Homo sapiens: one gene and its partner. The protein of the gene in region 1 purifies or fractionates together with the protein of each later gene. This does not show direct contact. Each region holds a gene or a part of one and is shown in the gene's direction. Other genes may lie near its edges.

The links. Proteins that work in one complex are often made in the same cells at the same time.
Region 2: the proteins of RCC1L (region 1) and TRUB2 purify together in Homo sapiens (affinity purification with mass spectrometry; 3 studies listed by BioGRID and IntAct, with this or other methods). This does not show direct contact.

The regions. Positions count from the first base shown.
Region 1 is NC_000007.14:75,056,786-75,063,821, reverse strand, and holds part of RCC1L (RCC1-like G exchanging factor-like protein), read left to right. Parts: intron 1-478; coding exon 479-530; intron 531-2,530; coding exon 2,531-2,615; intron 2,616-5,052; coding exon 5,053-5,234; intron 5,235-6,205; coding exon 6,206-6,293; intron 6,294-7,036. UniProt on the Homo sapiens protein: Guanine nucleotide exchange factor (GEF) for mitochondrial dynamin-related GTPase OPA1. Activates OPA1, by exchanging bound GDP for free GTP, and drives OPA1 and MFN1-dependent mitochondrial fusion. Plays an essential role in mitochondrial ribosome biogenesis.
Region 2 is NC_000009.12:128,312,440-128,319,475, reverse strand, and holds part of TRUB2 (pseudouridylate synthase TRUB2, mitochondrial), read left to right. Parts: intron 1-2,249; coding exon 2,250-2,324; intron 2,325-2,576; exon of another isoform or gene 2,577-3,650; coding exon of another isoform or gene 3,651-3,654; exon of another isoform or gene 3,655-3,847; coding exon 3,848-3,909; exon of another isoform or gene 3,910-4,052; intron 4,053-5,228; exon of another isoform or gene 5,229-5,378; intron 5,379-5,570; exon of another isoform or gene 5,571-5,586; coding exon 5,587-5,668; exon of another isoform or gene 5,669-5,925; intron 5,926-7,036. UniProt on the Homo sapiens protein: Minor enzyme contributing to the isomerization of uridine to pseudouridine (pseudouridylation) of specific mitochondrial mRNAs (mt-mRNAs) such as COXI and COXIII mt-mRNAs.

The DNA.
Region 1 (7,036 bases):
CAGCCTCCCGAATAGCTGGGATTACAGGCGTCCGCCACCGCACTTGGCTAATTTTTTGTATTTTTAGTAGAGATGGGGTTTCTTCATGTTGGCCAGGCTGGTTTCAAACTCCTGACCTCAAGTGATCCGCCCACCTCGGCCTCTAAAAGTGCTGGAATTACAGGCGTGACCCACCGCGCCCGGTGAGTTCTTTTCATTTTAGTGTTTAAAAACACTTCCCTCTAGTTCCTTGTATGTTGTTGGAGGGCCTTAACACCACTCTCAACTTTGGCCATGTGTTAAAATCACCTAGGATTTTGTTTGGCTTTACTTTCATGACCAGGCCTGACTCGACCTAAGATTTGACCTTGAGAGTTACCCCAACAGTTACTGTGTGAGCGGAGGGGACGGGCCATCAGTTGGGGTGACAGGGAAAGGGCTGCACAGTGCTTGTCATGACCGCATCCCTTGCTTCTTCCCAATTTGTTCCTGGCTGTAGTGAAAGTCACAGAGTCCACAGGATGCAGGACTTCGATGGCCAGGTGGTCCAGGTAAGAGAGATGGGCCGAGAGCTGCTTGTTGTGTTCCTGGGGTGCTTTTGAAAAGTTGAGATTTGGGTAGGGTGATGGCAAATTTGTTAGGGGGATTTTCTGAATTAAATTATTTTAGTAAAAATTGTAGCCTACTTACTATAGGCCAGGATTTATGCTAGATTCTAGGGATACAAAGTTTAATAAGATTTTGGGGCCGGGTGTGGTGGCTATACCTGTAATGCCAGCACTTTGGGAGGCCGAGACAGGTGGATCACCTGAAGTCAGGAGTTCCAGACCACCCTGGCCAACATGGTGAAACCCCGTCTTTACTAAAAATACAAAAATTAGCCGGGTGTGGTGGCACATGCCTGTAATCCCAGCTACTCAGGAGGCTGAGGCACAGGAATTGCTTGAACCTGGGAGGTGGAGGCTGCAATGAGCTGAGAGATTGCACCACTGCACTCCAGCCTGGATGACAGAGCAAGACTCTGTCTCAAAAAAAAACAGATTTTTGGGGATGACACTCTAGTGAGTGAACAAGTTAAAAAGCTAACTGAGGCCGGATGTGGTGGCTCACACCTGTAACGTCAGCCTCTGGGGAGGCTGAGGCAAAAGTATCACAGCACTTGCTGTATTCATGCATATGTGCATTGAAATATTTATGATAGGTACCTACCATGAGCCAGGCACTATTCTGGGGATGAGAATAAAATGGAGAGCAAAATACAGCTGGCTTAGAACACCACAGCACTAATCATACTGTGATACGGCTGGCTTTTTGGTTTTATTTGGAAATTTTTTAGAGGCAGGGTCTCATTCTGTTGCCTAGGCTGGAATGCAGTGGCACGATCATAGCTCACTGCAGCCTTGAACTCTTGGGCTCAAGTGATCTTGCCTCAGCCCCCTGTGTAGCTGGGTCTACAGGTGTGCATCACCATCCTCGGCTAATTATTTTAAAGAGACAGATTCTCACTGTGCTGGCCAGGCTGGTCTCAAACTCTTGGCCTCAAGCCATCCTCCCGCCTTGGCTGCCCAAACTGTTGGGATTATGGGTTAAGCCACCATGTCAGGCCTCCTTCACCTATTAGACTGAGTGACTTTGTGCAAGTTACCAGACATCTCCAAGATAGTTTCTTTTTCTTTTTTTTTATTTTAGTGCAGTGGCACAATCTCAGCTCAGAGCAACCTCTGCCTCCTGGGTTCAAGCGATTCTCGTGCCTCAGACTCCCGAGTTGCTGGGATTACAGGCATGTGCCACCATACCTGGCTAATTTTTGTATTTTTAGTAGAGATGGGGTTTCACCATGTTGGCCAGGCTGGTCTTGAACTCCTGACCTCAAGTGATCCACCTGCCTTGGCCTCTCAACGTGTTGGGATTACAGGAGTGAGTCACTGTGCCCAGCTGAGATTCAGTTTCTTACTAGGTGGTTTTGGTTATTGACTTAACACAATGCCTGGTGTAAAAATTGTTCAATAGATGGTGCTTTTCTTTAGGCAGTTAGAAAAATGAGTTTGGAACTGAGGAGAGTTGTTGAGACCAGAGATCACAGTGCAGAGGCCACAGTTAAGCATTGAGAATGGCTCCCATCTCCCAGGGTAGCATGAGGAGTGAGGAGAGAGGAGGGCAGGAGACACACCCTGGAGAGAGATCCCAACAGCAAAGGGTCTGAAGTAGAGGCTGAGTGTGTGAGCAAGGCTGGAAGCTGTGAAAGTAGAAGAGAGGGCTGGGAGGAGAAGGGTTATGGAGAAGGGGTGGTTCTTTGGAGATGGCGTGGGATGGATGGCAGAGCTCTTGGATTTGCCCCTTTGGAGATCTGCATTTTACTTTAACAAGAGCAGTTTCAATGCAGTGGGAGACTGGTAGATTGAGAAGGAGTAAGATGAGCATGGAGCAGTCTGCCTGGACCATGCTCCAGGTGCCCAGGAGCGGCAGGCGATGGTGCTGGTCCTTCTTTGGATGAGGACACCAGGGTTCTAAGTATTTCCTCTCATCCCCCTTACCTCTGTTTGTCTGCTAGGTCGCCTGTGGTCAGGATCATAGTCTGTTCCTGACGGATAAAGGAGAAGTCTATTCTTGTGGATGGGGTGCTGATGGGCAAACAGGTAGAGTTCTTTTCATGCACTGGGGTCGTGAAACTTCTCAGCCCGTGTCATGTGGAGCTGTGAGCTGTAGGGCATTTATGGGCTAGAACCCTTCTTCCTTAATTCAGCTCTTACCTCTTATCACTTTCTGAGGAACACTATTCTTGGCTCCATCGCCCAAGCTGGAGTGCAGTGGCGCGATCACATCTCACTGCAGTCTCAAACTCCCAGGCTCAGGTGATCCTCCCACCACAGTCTCCAGAGTAGCTGGGACAACAGGTGTGAGCCACCAAGCCCAGCTAATTTTTTGTAACAACAGGGTTTCGCCATGTTGCCCAGGCTGGTCTTGAACTCCTGACCTTAAGCAGTCTGCCTGCTGTGGCCTCTTGGTGGGCTGGGATTCCAGGCAGGAGCCACTGTGCCCTGCTGTAATACTTTTTTTTTGCATCCCTTCCATTCCCCTCAGCCCTGGCTCCCATAGAAATGAACTGAGAGAAGGCTGGGTGCAGTGGCTCACACCTGTAATCCCAGCACTTTGGGAGGCCGAGGTGGGCGGATCACTTGAGGTCAGGAGTTTGAGACCAGCTTGGCCACCATGGCGAAACCCCATCTCTACTAAAAATACAAAAATTAGCTGGGTGTGGTGGCACACGGCTGTAATCCCAGCTACTAGGAAGGCTGAGGCAGGAGAATGGCTTGAACCCGGGAGGCGGAGGTTGCTGTGAGCCAAGATCGCGCCATTGCACTCCAGCCTGGACAACAGAGCAAGACTCTGTCTCAAAAACAAACAAACACAAACTGCAGAGAAAAGGACAGGCAGGACCTGCCCAAAGGCAAATGTCATTATTGGCACTTGGTATGGGGGTAACCCCTGGCCAGCAGCCCAAGGCAGAGCACTGAACTGTAGACTCTTGCCTTCATCCAGGGTCCTTAAAGGGGCCTATTCCTCAGCAGGTGAATGGATCAACCGTGGTGCATCCAGACAATGTAAAGTTTGTTATTTAGCACTAAAAAGCAATAAGCTGCCAACCCATGGAAAGGCATGGAGGAAACTTAAATGCATGATACTGATTAAAAGAAGCCTATCTGAAAAGGCTACATACTATAGGATTCTAGCTATATGGCATTCTGAAAAAGACAAACTATGGAGACAGTAAAAAGATCGGGGCCGGGCGCGGTGGCTCATGCCTGTAATCCCAGCACTTTGGGAGGCCTAGGCAGGTGGATCACGAGGTCAAGAGATCGAGACCATCCTGGCTGACACGGTAAAACCCATCTCTACTAAAAAATACAAAAAAAATTGGCTGGGCATGGTGGCGGGCGCCTGTAGTCCCAGCTACTCAGGAGGCTGAGGCGGGAGAATGGCATGAACCCACTGTGCCCAGCCTCTCTGCTTATTGTTAACCATGCCATTTTAAGTTCCCTGTTTTTTGGGAGTGGTGTTGGGGATGGCATGGGCTCTTAGAGATTTTCTTTACTTTTAGCAAGACCACCAGTGCATTAGAAATTGCTTGTTGTGATCAGGCAGGTGGCTCACACCTGTAATCTAAGCACTTTGGGAGGCTGAGGCAGGAGGATTGCTTGAGCCCAGGAGTTCGATACCAGCCTGGGCAACATAGTGAGATGCTGTCTCTATTTCAATATAAAAAAATTTTAGACCAGGCGCAGTGGCTCACGCCTATAATCCCAGCACTTTGGGAAGCTGAGGCAGGCGGATCACCTGAGGTCAGGGGTTTTGAGGCCAGCCTTGCCAACATGACGAAACCGCATCTCTGTGAAAAATACAAAAATTAGCCGGCTGTGGTGGTGCGTGCCTGTAATCTCAGCTACTTGGGAGGCTGAGGCACAAGAATTAAAGAACTGCTTGAACCCAGGAGCTGGAGATTGCAGTGAGCCGAGATCGCACCACTGCGCTGCAGCCAGAGGAACAGAGTGAGACCGTCTCAAAAAAAAAAAAAAAGTTGTATGAGCATGCAACTAAGCAGATTAGGGTTTCTTTTCTTTCTTTCTTTTCTTTTTTTTTCTTTTTTTTTTTTTTTTGAGAGTCTCATTCTTGCCAAGGCTGGAGTGCAGTGGTGTGATCTTGGCTTAACTGGAACCTCCACCTCCTAGGTTCAAGTGATTCTTGTGCCTCAGCCTTCTGAGTAGCTGAGATTACAGGCATGTACCATTATGCCCTAATAATTTTTTTGTAATTTTTTTTTTTTTTTTTAAGTAGAGACAGGGTTTCGCCATGTTGACCAGGCTGATCTCGAACTCCTGACCTCAAGTGATCTGCCCATCTCAGCCTCTGAAAGTGGTGGGATTACAGGCGTGAGCCACTGCACCCAGCCCCAGACTGGGATTTCTGAGCTGATACTTGTTAAGTGCTTAAAACTGCACTTGGCATATAGTAAGTCTGCCTATGTGTTTGTTAAAAGAGCGAATAATTAAAAATCTGTATTTTCCACTGTGTTAGGTCTGGGTCACTACAATATCACCAGCTCGCCCACCAAGCTGGGTGGAGACCTGGCGGGAGTGAACGTTATCCAAGTTGCCACCTACGGTGATTGCTGCCTGGCCGTGTCCGCCGACGGAGGACTTTTTGGTTGGGGAAACTCGGAGTACCTGCAGCTGGCCTCTGTCACTGACTCCACACAGGTATGCAGTCGCCGACAGCGTGGTGCTGGGAGGTTTGGAAACATTAAAGTGTTAAGGGGCCGGGTGTGGTGGCTCACACCTGTAATCCCAGCACTTTGGAAGGCCGAGACAGGCAGATGGCTTGAGGTCAGGAGTTCAGGACCAGCCTGGGCAACATGGCAAAACCCCATCTCTACCAAAAAAATACAAAAATTAGCCAGGTGTGGTGGTGCATGCCTGTAATCCCAGGTACTGGGGAGGCTGAGGCATGAGAATTGAATCGCTTGCAGATTGCAGTGAGCTGAGATCGTGCCACCACATTCCAGCCTGGGTGACAGAGCAAGACTCTGTCTCGAAAAAAAAGAGCAAATAGGCTGGGCGTGGTGGCTCACGCCTGTAATCCCAGCGCTTTGGGAGGCCAAGGCAGGCAGATCACCTGAGGTCAGGAGTTCGAGACCAGCCTGGCCAACCTGGTGAAACCCCGTCTCTACTAAAAAAAAATACAAAAATACCACCTCCACCTCCTGGGTACAAGCAATTCTCCTGGCTCAGCCCCCCGAGTAGCTGGGACTACAGGCACTTGCCACCACGCCCAGCTAACTTTTGTATTTTTAATAGAGACAGGGTTTCACCATGTTGGCCAGGCTGGTCTCGAACTCCTGACCTCAAGTGATCCACCTGCCTCCGCCTCCCAGAGTGCTAGGATTACAGGCGTGAGCCACCACACCCGGCCACAAATGTCATTTTATGTTAATTTTGGTTGACATCTGCCTCGTCCACTAGACTAGAACTCTCTGAGGGTGGAAACTGGGCCTCTTTTGCTTCCCATTCTACCCCAGCACCTAGTATGATGCTTGGCATGTGATGTTCAGGAAGTATCTGTGGAGTGAATGAATGAACTAGGACTCAGCTACTCTGTACCTAAGACCAGAACACTTCCCGGTCCTTACTGGCTTGCTTTCCTAACAGTGTGGCTCCTTTCTTTGGTTCAGGTGAATGTGCCCCGCTGCTTACACTTCTCAGGAGTGGGGAAGGTGCGACAGGCTGCATGCGGTGGCACGGGCTGTGCAGTGTTAAACGGTGAGACCTTCTTTCCGGTGGCTCATTGGGAAGCTGTAGGTAGATTACATAGGGAGTGGTCAGTGTCCATTGGATTTGCAGGCCGTAGACCTTAGCCTTAGGAGGGTAACATGGCTGGGCGCGGTGGCTCACATCTGTAATCCCAGCACTTTGGGGAACTGATGCAGGAGGATTGCTTGAGGCCAGGAGTTCCAGACCAGCCTGGACAACATAACGAGACCCTGTCTCTACCAAAAAATGGAGAAATTAGCTGGAAGGCTGGGTGTGGTGGCTCACACCTGTAATCTCAGCACTTTGGGAGGCCAAGGCAGGCAGATCACCTGAGGTCAGGAGTTCAAGACCAGCCTGGCCAACGTGGTGAAACCCTGACTCTACTAAAAATAGAAAAATTAGCCAGACATGGTGGTACATGCTTGTAATCCTAGTACTTGGAAGGCTAAGGTGGGAGGATTGCTTGGACCCAGGAGGCAGAGGTTGTAGTGAGCCGAGATTGCGCCACTGCACTCCAGCCTGGATGACTCTGTCTCAATAGAAAAAGAAAAAATGAAAAATTAGCTGGGCATGGTGGTGCACACCTGTAGTCCCAGCTACTCAGAAGGCTGAGGCAGAAAGGTCCCTTGAGCCCAGGAGTTCGAGCTGCAGTGAGCTATGATCATGCCACTGCACTGGGCAACACGGTGAGACCCTGTTTCAAAAAAGGAAGGGACTATGGCCATGGGAAGATGGCATTGGATTAGAAGATG
Region 2 (7,036 bases), on another chromosome or scaffold:
TCTGTCACCCAGGCTGGAGGGCAGTGGTGAGATCTCGGCTCACTGAAACCTCTGCCTCCTGAGTTCAAGCAGTCTTCTCACCTAAGCCTCCCGAGTAGCTGGGACTACAGGCACAGGCCACTATGCCTGGCTAATTTTTTTTTTTTTTTTGAGACGGAGTCATGCTCTGTTGCCCAGGCTGGAGTGCAGTGGCACGATCTCGGCTCACTGCAAGCTTCTCCTCCTGGGTTCACGCCATTCTCCTGCCTCAGCCTCCCGAGTAGCTGGGACTACAGGCGCCCGCCACCACGCCCAGCTAATTTTTTGTATTTTTAGTAGAGACGGGGTTTCACCATGTTAGGCAGGATAGTCTCGATCTCCTGACCTCGTGATCCACCCGCCTCGGCCTCCCAAAGTGCTGGGATTACAGGTGTGAGCCACCACGCCCGGCCATGCCTGGCTAATTTTTGTATTTTTTGTAGAGATGGGGTTTTGTCACGTTGCCCATGCTAGTATTGAACTCCTGGGCTCAAGTGATCTGCCTGCCTCGGCGTCTCAAAGTGCTGGGATTATAAGCGTGAGCCCTTGCAACTGGTCTCTTGATTTATTTTGAACCACTGAAAAATGCAAAAACCATTCTTAACTCATAGGCCACAAAAAACAAGCCAGATGCGGTGGCTCATTCATGTAATCCCAGCACTTTGGGAGGCCGAGGCAGGCGGATCACTTGAGGTCAAGAGTTCAAGACCAGCCTGGCCAACATGATGAAACTCCGTCTCTACTAAAAATACAAAAAATTAGCTAGGTATGGAGGCAGGTGCCTGTAATCCTAGCTACTCAGGAGGCTGAGGCATGAGAATCGCTTGAATCTGGGAGGTGGAGGTTGCAGTGAGTTGAGATGGCGCCACTGCACTCCAGCCTGGGTGACAAAGTGAGACTCCATCTCAAAACAAAACAAAACAAAACAAGCAAACACACACACACAAAAAAAAAACAGTCTTCAGTCTTCAGGTTTGACTTGTGGACTGTAGTTTGCTGACCCTTTTTCTATTCTGGGACTCCAGGTGAGAAATGAGACCCTAGGTAGAAGTCCTAAGGTAGGGGTTTTGGGTTTCTGGGAAAGAATAAGTTTATTTATTTATTTATTTGACAGAGTCTTGCTCTGTTGCCCAGGCTGGAGTCTGGAGTGCAGTGGTGTGATCTCAGCTCACTGCAACCTCCATCTCCCAGGTTCAAGCTATTCTCTTGCCTCAGCCTCCCAAGTAGCTGGGATTACAGGTGTGTGCCACCACACCCAGCTAATTTTTGTATTTTTAGTAGAGATGGGGTTTCACCATGTTGGCCAGGCTGGTCTCGAACTCCTGACCTCAGGTGATCCGCCCACCTTGGCCTCCCAAAGTGCTGGGATTACAGGTGTGAGCCACTGCGCCCAGCCGAAAGAGTGATTTTTTTACTGAATAAAGTTGCCCAACAATGGAACTGGTTCTGGTAATGTGTCCCCATCACTAGATGTGATTAAGGCATGTGTCAGGGAATCTAGAGGTTTGACCAGAAACCTCAAAAACCCGTTGGACTTGTGATATTCAATGACTCTATTATATGGTAACAATAAGAAGTATAATGTATTGAGTCGCCACTCTGTACTAGGCATTGTGTTAAGCTTCCCCCAAGTACAATCCTCATTGATATCACCACAGTGCTGTGAGATGGGTCCTATTTTCATTTCACAAGGGAGAAAACTGAGGCTCAGTGTTGACATTTAGTAACATGGCCTGGATTCAATAGGCCCTTAACTACCCTGGACTCTTCCCCTAGATTCCTCTTAATCTGTAGAAGTGTAAACACTTCTGGCTCATTCCTGCATTTATTCTTTCAGTAGTTCTTTCCTGAGCAGCTAGTGAGTTGACACACCCAGGTTCTGCCTTAAGGAGCTCACAGCCTCCATTTTCCTCCAGGGACTCTTCCTCAGTAGAGCTGGGCAGGGAACCCCGCACTCTTGACCTTCAGTGTTACGCCAGTCTTCTTAGAGCCTCTCACTGGGAGACTGATGATAGGCAGAGTAAGAGGCATCTTGGGCTGCCCTTTGGATCCCAGGGCACTGAGGATACAGTTCAGGGTCCCAGATTCCATGACGGGGAAGCCTGAGAGTCTGGCCTGATGCTAGTTTGGGCTCCATGAGGCCCATTCTGAGAACGAGGTCAACATGCAGCCCAAAGCCATCCTGGGGTGGCATTTAGTTGAGAAAATGGACCTTGTTTGTTTCTTTCCAGTATGTGGACCAGCATTCGCCCATCTCAAGGTTGGCGTGGGACATCGGTTGGATGCCCAGGCTTCTGGAGTACTTGGTAGGTGATGTGAGAAGCCTGGGGGTACAGTGATAAGGCTTGAGAAAAGATCCTGAAGCTACCAGGAGCCCAGCCCACTTCTTACCTGGCACCCACGTCCCACCACTCCTCTCCTGCCCTGATTCCTGCCCCAAGGCTGATCAGCTGGGGAGTGGATAGGTGGGACGGAGGTAATCACAGGTTAATACCACAGTCACCCACCTTTATTCAGTGATTCCCACACATGACATAGTTCGAGGCCCTTTATGCACATTTATTTACCACAACAACTTTATTAGGTAGATACTATATGATTTTATGGAAGAAGAAAGTAGGATTTAGGTGACTTGTTCTGGGTCCCATGGCCAGTGAATACCCCTGGTCCGGAGAAGGAAAACCATCATTGCATCATGGGGCAGCCAGGCGCGTGACTCTGGACCTAATGGCCAGGGCCTGCATGTGGCTGGGTCTGGACACACAAAGCCCTAGTCATGAGCCATCTGTGTCCCCAGGGTCAGGTGGTGCCCACATCCTCCAGCCGCGACAGTCACAGTCCCCTTGTCTTGCTTCCTGAGGCACAGGCAGGCAGACATGATCTCATGCCCCCTCTCCCTGTTCTGTCTCCCCACGAGTGAATGCAGAGTTATTCTGTCCCTCAGCCAGAGGGAGAAACAGACCGGGAGAAAGGCAGGAAGTGACCACAGTGGCCACCGTTTATTGGGCCCTTCCTCTGTGCCGACTGCACAGCACCCACAGGAATCAGTATTTTTTTTTTTTCCTGAGACAGAGTCTTGCTCTGTCTCCCAGGCTGGAGTGCAATGGCATGATCTCGGCTCACTGGAACCTCCGCCTCCTGGGTTCAAGCAATTCTCCCTGCCTTAGCCTCCCGAGTAGGTGGGATTACAGGTGCCCGCCACCACGCCTGGCTAATTTTTTTTTTTTTTTTTTGTGAGACGGAGTCTCACTCTTGTTGCCCAAGCTGGAGTGTAGTGTAGCACCACACCTGGTTAATTTTGTATTTTTTGGTAGAGATGGGGTTTCACCATGTTGGCCAAGCTGGTCTCAAACTCCTGACCTCAGGTGATCCACCTGCCTCGGCCTCCCAAAGTTCTGGGATTACAGGCATGAGCCACTGCGCCTGGCCTTCAGACAGTATTTTTACCCCCATTTTACTGATGGGGAACTTGACGCTCAAAGAGGCTAAAGATTATACTCAGAGCTGTCCCTGATTTGAGTGCAGGTTTGTGTGACTAGGCCAGGGATCTCTTCCTCTCAGGTGTCAGAATCCTGTGGAGAGCTTGGCAGGGATCCTAGGCCCCCTCCAACCATGAGTCAGATTCAGTGCATATGGGTAAGGCCCAGCAATCTGCATGTGATATATACCCAGAGGGGTGCACCTGCCCCCTGTAGAAGATCTTTTTGCCTTCTTGTTGCCTTTGGCAGCATCAGAAAAGGGAGTATTCTGATGGTGGGGGTAGGGGTGGGGATACTTAGGGGAATGGGAAGGGGGTCCCAGGTGTGAGATGACGCTGGCTGCTTTTCAGTGCTCGGCGTGGGACATGGATGCAGGCTCCTCACCGATATGTACAATGCTCATCTTACCAAGGTACGAGGGTCTGGGGACAGCCTGCTTCTCCCTTGGTCCTTTCCTGGGGGTCACCAGCAGGATTCTGAAGCTTAGAGGATTCCGTGGGGGAACACCCAAGCCATAAGCAAGCATTTTTTTGATGATCGTGTGCTGTGCAGGGGCTGTAATAATAATAACAATAATAACTACCAGTGTTAGTGTATGCCGACTACTCTGTGCTGAGCACTGTACGTGGATTCCTTTAGGGAAGCCTCACAGCCTCCCTGTAAAGTGGAATCTGTTGTTAGCCACATTTCACAGATGAGAGAACTGAGGCTCAGAGAGGAGATGTTACTTACCTAGGTCATGTAGTTGTTAGGGCTTTAAGAGCTGGGATTTGAACCTAGGTCTCTCCAACACCAGAGCTTGATCATGATGCCATTCCCTATTCTGTCCCAAGACTGAGAGGTAGATGTCAGCATCCTACCCACAGGGAGCTTACCATCCAGAGGTGGGGTCGGGGCTATGGAGTCTGATACCACAAAGTATGTACGCAGGTGCCACGTTATGGGGCCCATGTTTTTAGTGGTTAAGGGCACAAATTCTGGAGCCAAATGGCTTCAGTTTGAACCCCAGCTTCTACCACTCTGACAGCTGTGTGTCCTTGGGTAGATTACCTAATTAATATCTGTGTGCCTCAGTTTCCTCATCTGTAAAATGGGAATGAGGGCCAGGTGTGGTGACTCATACCTGTAATCCCAGTACTTTGGGAGGCTGAGGCAGGAGGATTGCTTGAGCCCAGGAATTTGAGACCAGTCTGGGCAACATAGCAAGACTCCATCTCTATTTACAAAATTTTTTTAAATTATAAAAATTTTAAAAATTGTGGCCGGGCTCAGTGGCTCCTGCCACTTTGGGAGGCTGAGGTGGGTGGGTCACTTGAGGCCAGGAGTTCAAGACCAGCCTGGACAACATGGTGAAAACCTGTCTCTACTAAAAATACAAAAAAATTAGCCAGGCTGGTGGCGCATGCCTGTCCTCCCAGCTACTCGACGATCCACCCGCCTCTGTCTCCCAAAGTGCTGGGATTATACGTGTGAGTCACTGTATCCAGCCAATCATTACTTATCTGTGGCAGATGGGGTTAGCTGCACAGATTCAGAGGAGGGGGAGTTTTTACAAGCAGGGATGAGCAAGGGCCTGATCTGGGCCATGGAATCTCATTCTATTTAGAGGCGTGGAGAGAAGCCTACAGGGCATGCTAGAAGGGGCTCGGGGTGATAAATTGCCGAGTTAGGTTGGAGAGGAGAAACATGGAGGCCTGGGGTGGCCACAGGGTGGCTGTCAGCGGTCAGTACCTTTGGAGGCTGCCAGTGCTGGTTGTCATGGAAACCAGCCAGCAGTCTTGTAGGAAGCCTGCTGACTGGGAGCCAGGTACCATGTCCTGCTGAATCCAGGCAGCAGTACTGTGAGACTGGCCCTGTTACTGTCCCCAGGTGACAGGAGAGCTTGAATACAAAGAGAGCAAGAGCTGCTGAAGGCCACATGACAGAGCTGGTGCCCTTCCTCCTGGGGCTGTGGAGCAGCTGGGCAGGGGCTGGGCACATGAGCTTCCTGAGGGAGACCTGAGGACCCCCCACCCCCAGCTTCTGGGGCAGGGGCTACTAGGGCTTAGAATGGGGTCACTGACGGATCTTTACCTCCCTGTCCTTGAAGGATTACACAGTGCGTGGCCTCCTGGGCAAAGCTACAGATGACTTCCGTGAGGACGGGAGGCTGGTAGAGAAGACAACCTATGGTGAGAACCGGAAGTGGCTGCCGCTGCCTCCCTCCGCATTTGCTTTCCCTGAGTCCTCTCCCCGCCCTAGGCCACGCTGGCCCCTTCTCAGTTCCACTGCACACACTAGGCTTGGGCTGAGGCTTTGGCCACGGGATCTGTGCTCCAGGAGCATCCTCTACTCCCCTGCTTGCCTAGCTCAAATGTAACGTCACTTCCAAAGACTCTAGTTTCTCTCCATCTCGTCAGTCTTTGACCTTTTCCTTTTCTTTTCTTTTTTTTTTTTTTTTTTTGAGACGGAGTCTCGCTCTGTCGCCCAGGCTGGAGTGCAGTGGCACGATCTCAGCTCGCTGCAAGCACCACCTCCCGGGTTCACGCCATTCTCCTGCCTCAGCCTCCCTAGTAGCTGGGACTACAGGCGCCCGCCACCACGCCCGGCTTTTTTTTTTTTGTATTTTTAGTAGAGATGGGAGACGGGGTTTCACCATGTTAGCCAAGATGGTCTGGATCTCCTGACCTCATGATCCGCCCTCCTTGGCCTCCCAAAGTGCTGGGATTACAGGCATGAGCCACCGCGCCCAGCCTTTCCTTTTCTTTTCTTTTTTTTTTTTTGAAACGATGTCTCGCTCTGTCGCCCAGGCTGGAGTGCAGTGGCGCGATCTTGGCTTACTGCAACCTCCACCTCCCAGGTTCAAGCAATTCTCCTGCCTCAGCCTTCGGAGTAGCTGAGATTACAGGTGCACACCACCACACCCAGCTAATGTTTTGTATTTTTAGTAGAAATTGGGTTTCACCCTGTTGGCCAGTCTGGTCTGGAACTCCTGACCTCAGGTATTCTGCCCACCTCGGCCTCCCAAAGTGCTGGGATTACAGGTGTGAGTCACCACGCCTGGCTACTGTTCTAAATTTTAAAAAGAGGCCGGGCGCAGTGGCTCACGCCTGTAATCCCAGCACTTTGGGAGGTCGAGATGGGTGGATCACAAGGTCAGGAGTTTGAGACCAGCCTGGCTGATATGGTAAAACCCGTCTCTAGTAAAAATACAAAAATTAGCCGGGCGTGGTGGCAGGCACCTGTAGTCCCAGCTACTCAGGAGGCTGAGGCAGGAGAATCGCTTGAACCTGGGAGGCGGAGGTTGCAGTGAGCTGAGATTGCACCACTGCACTCCAGCCTGGCAACAAAGCGAGACTCCGTCTCAAAAAAAAAAAAAAAAAATAATAATAATACAAAAAATTAGCCGGGCATGGTAGTGCACGCCTATAATCCCAGGTACTCGGGAGGCTGAGGCAGGAGAATCGTTTGAACCTAGGAGGTGAAGTTTGCAGTTTGCTGAGATCTCACCACTGCACTCCAGCCTGGGCAACAGAGCGAGATTCCATCTCAAAAAAAAA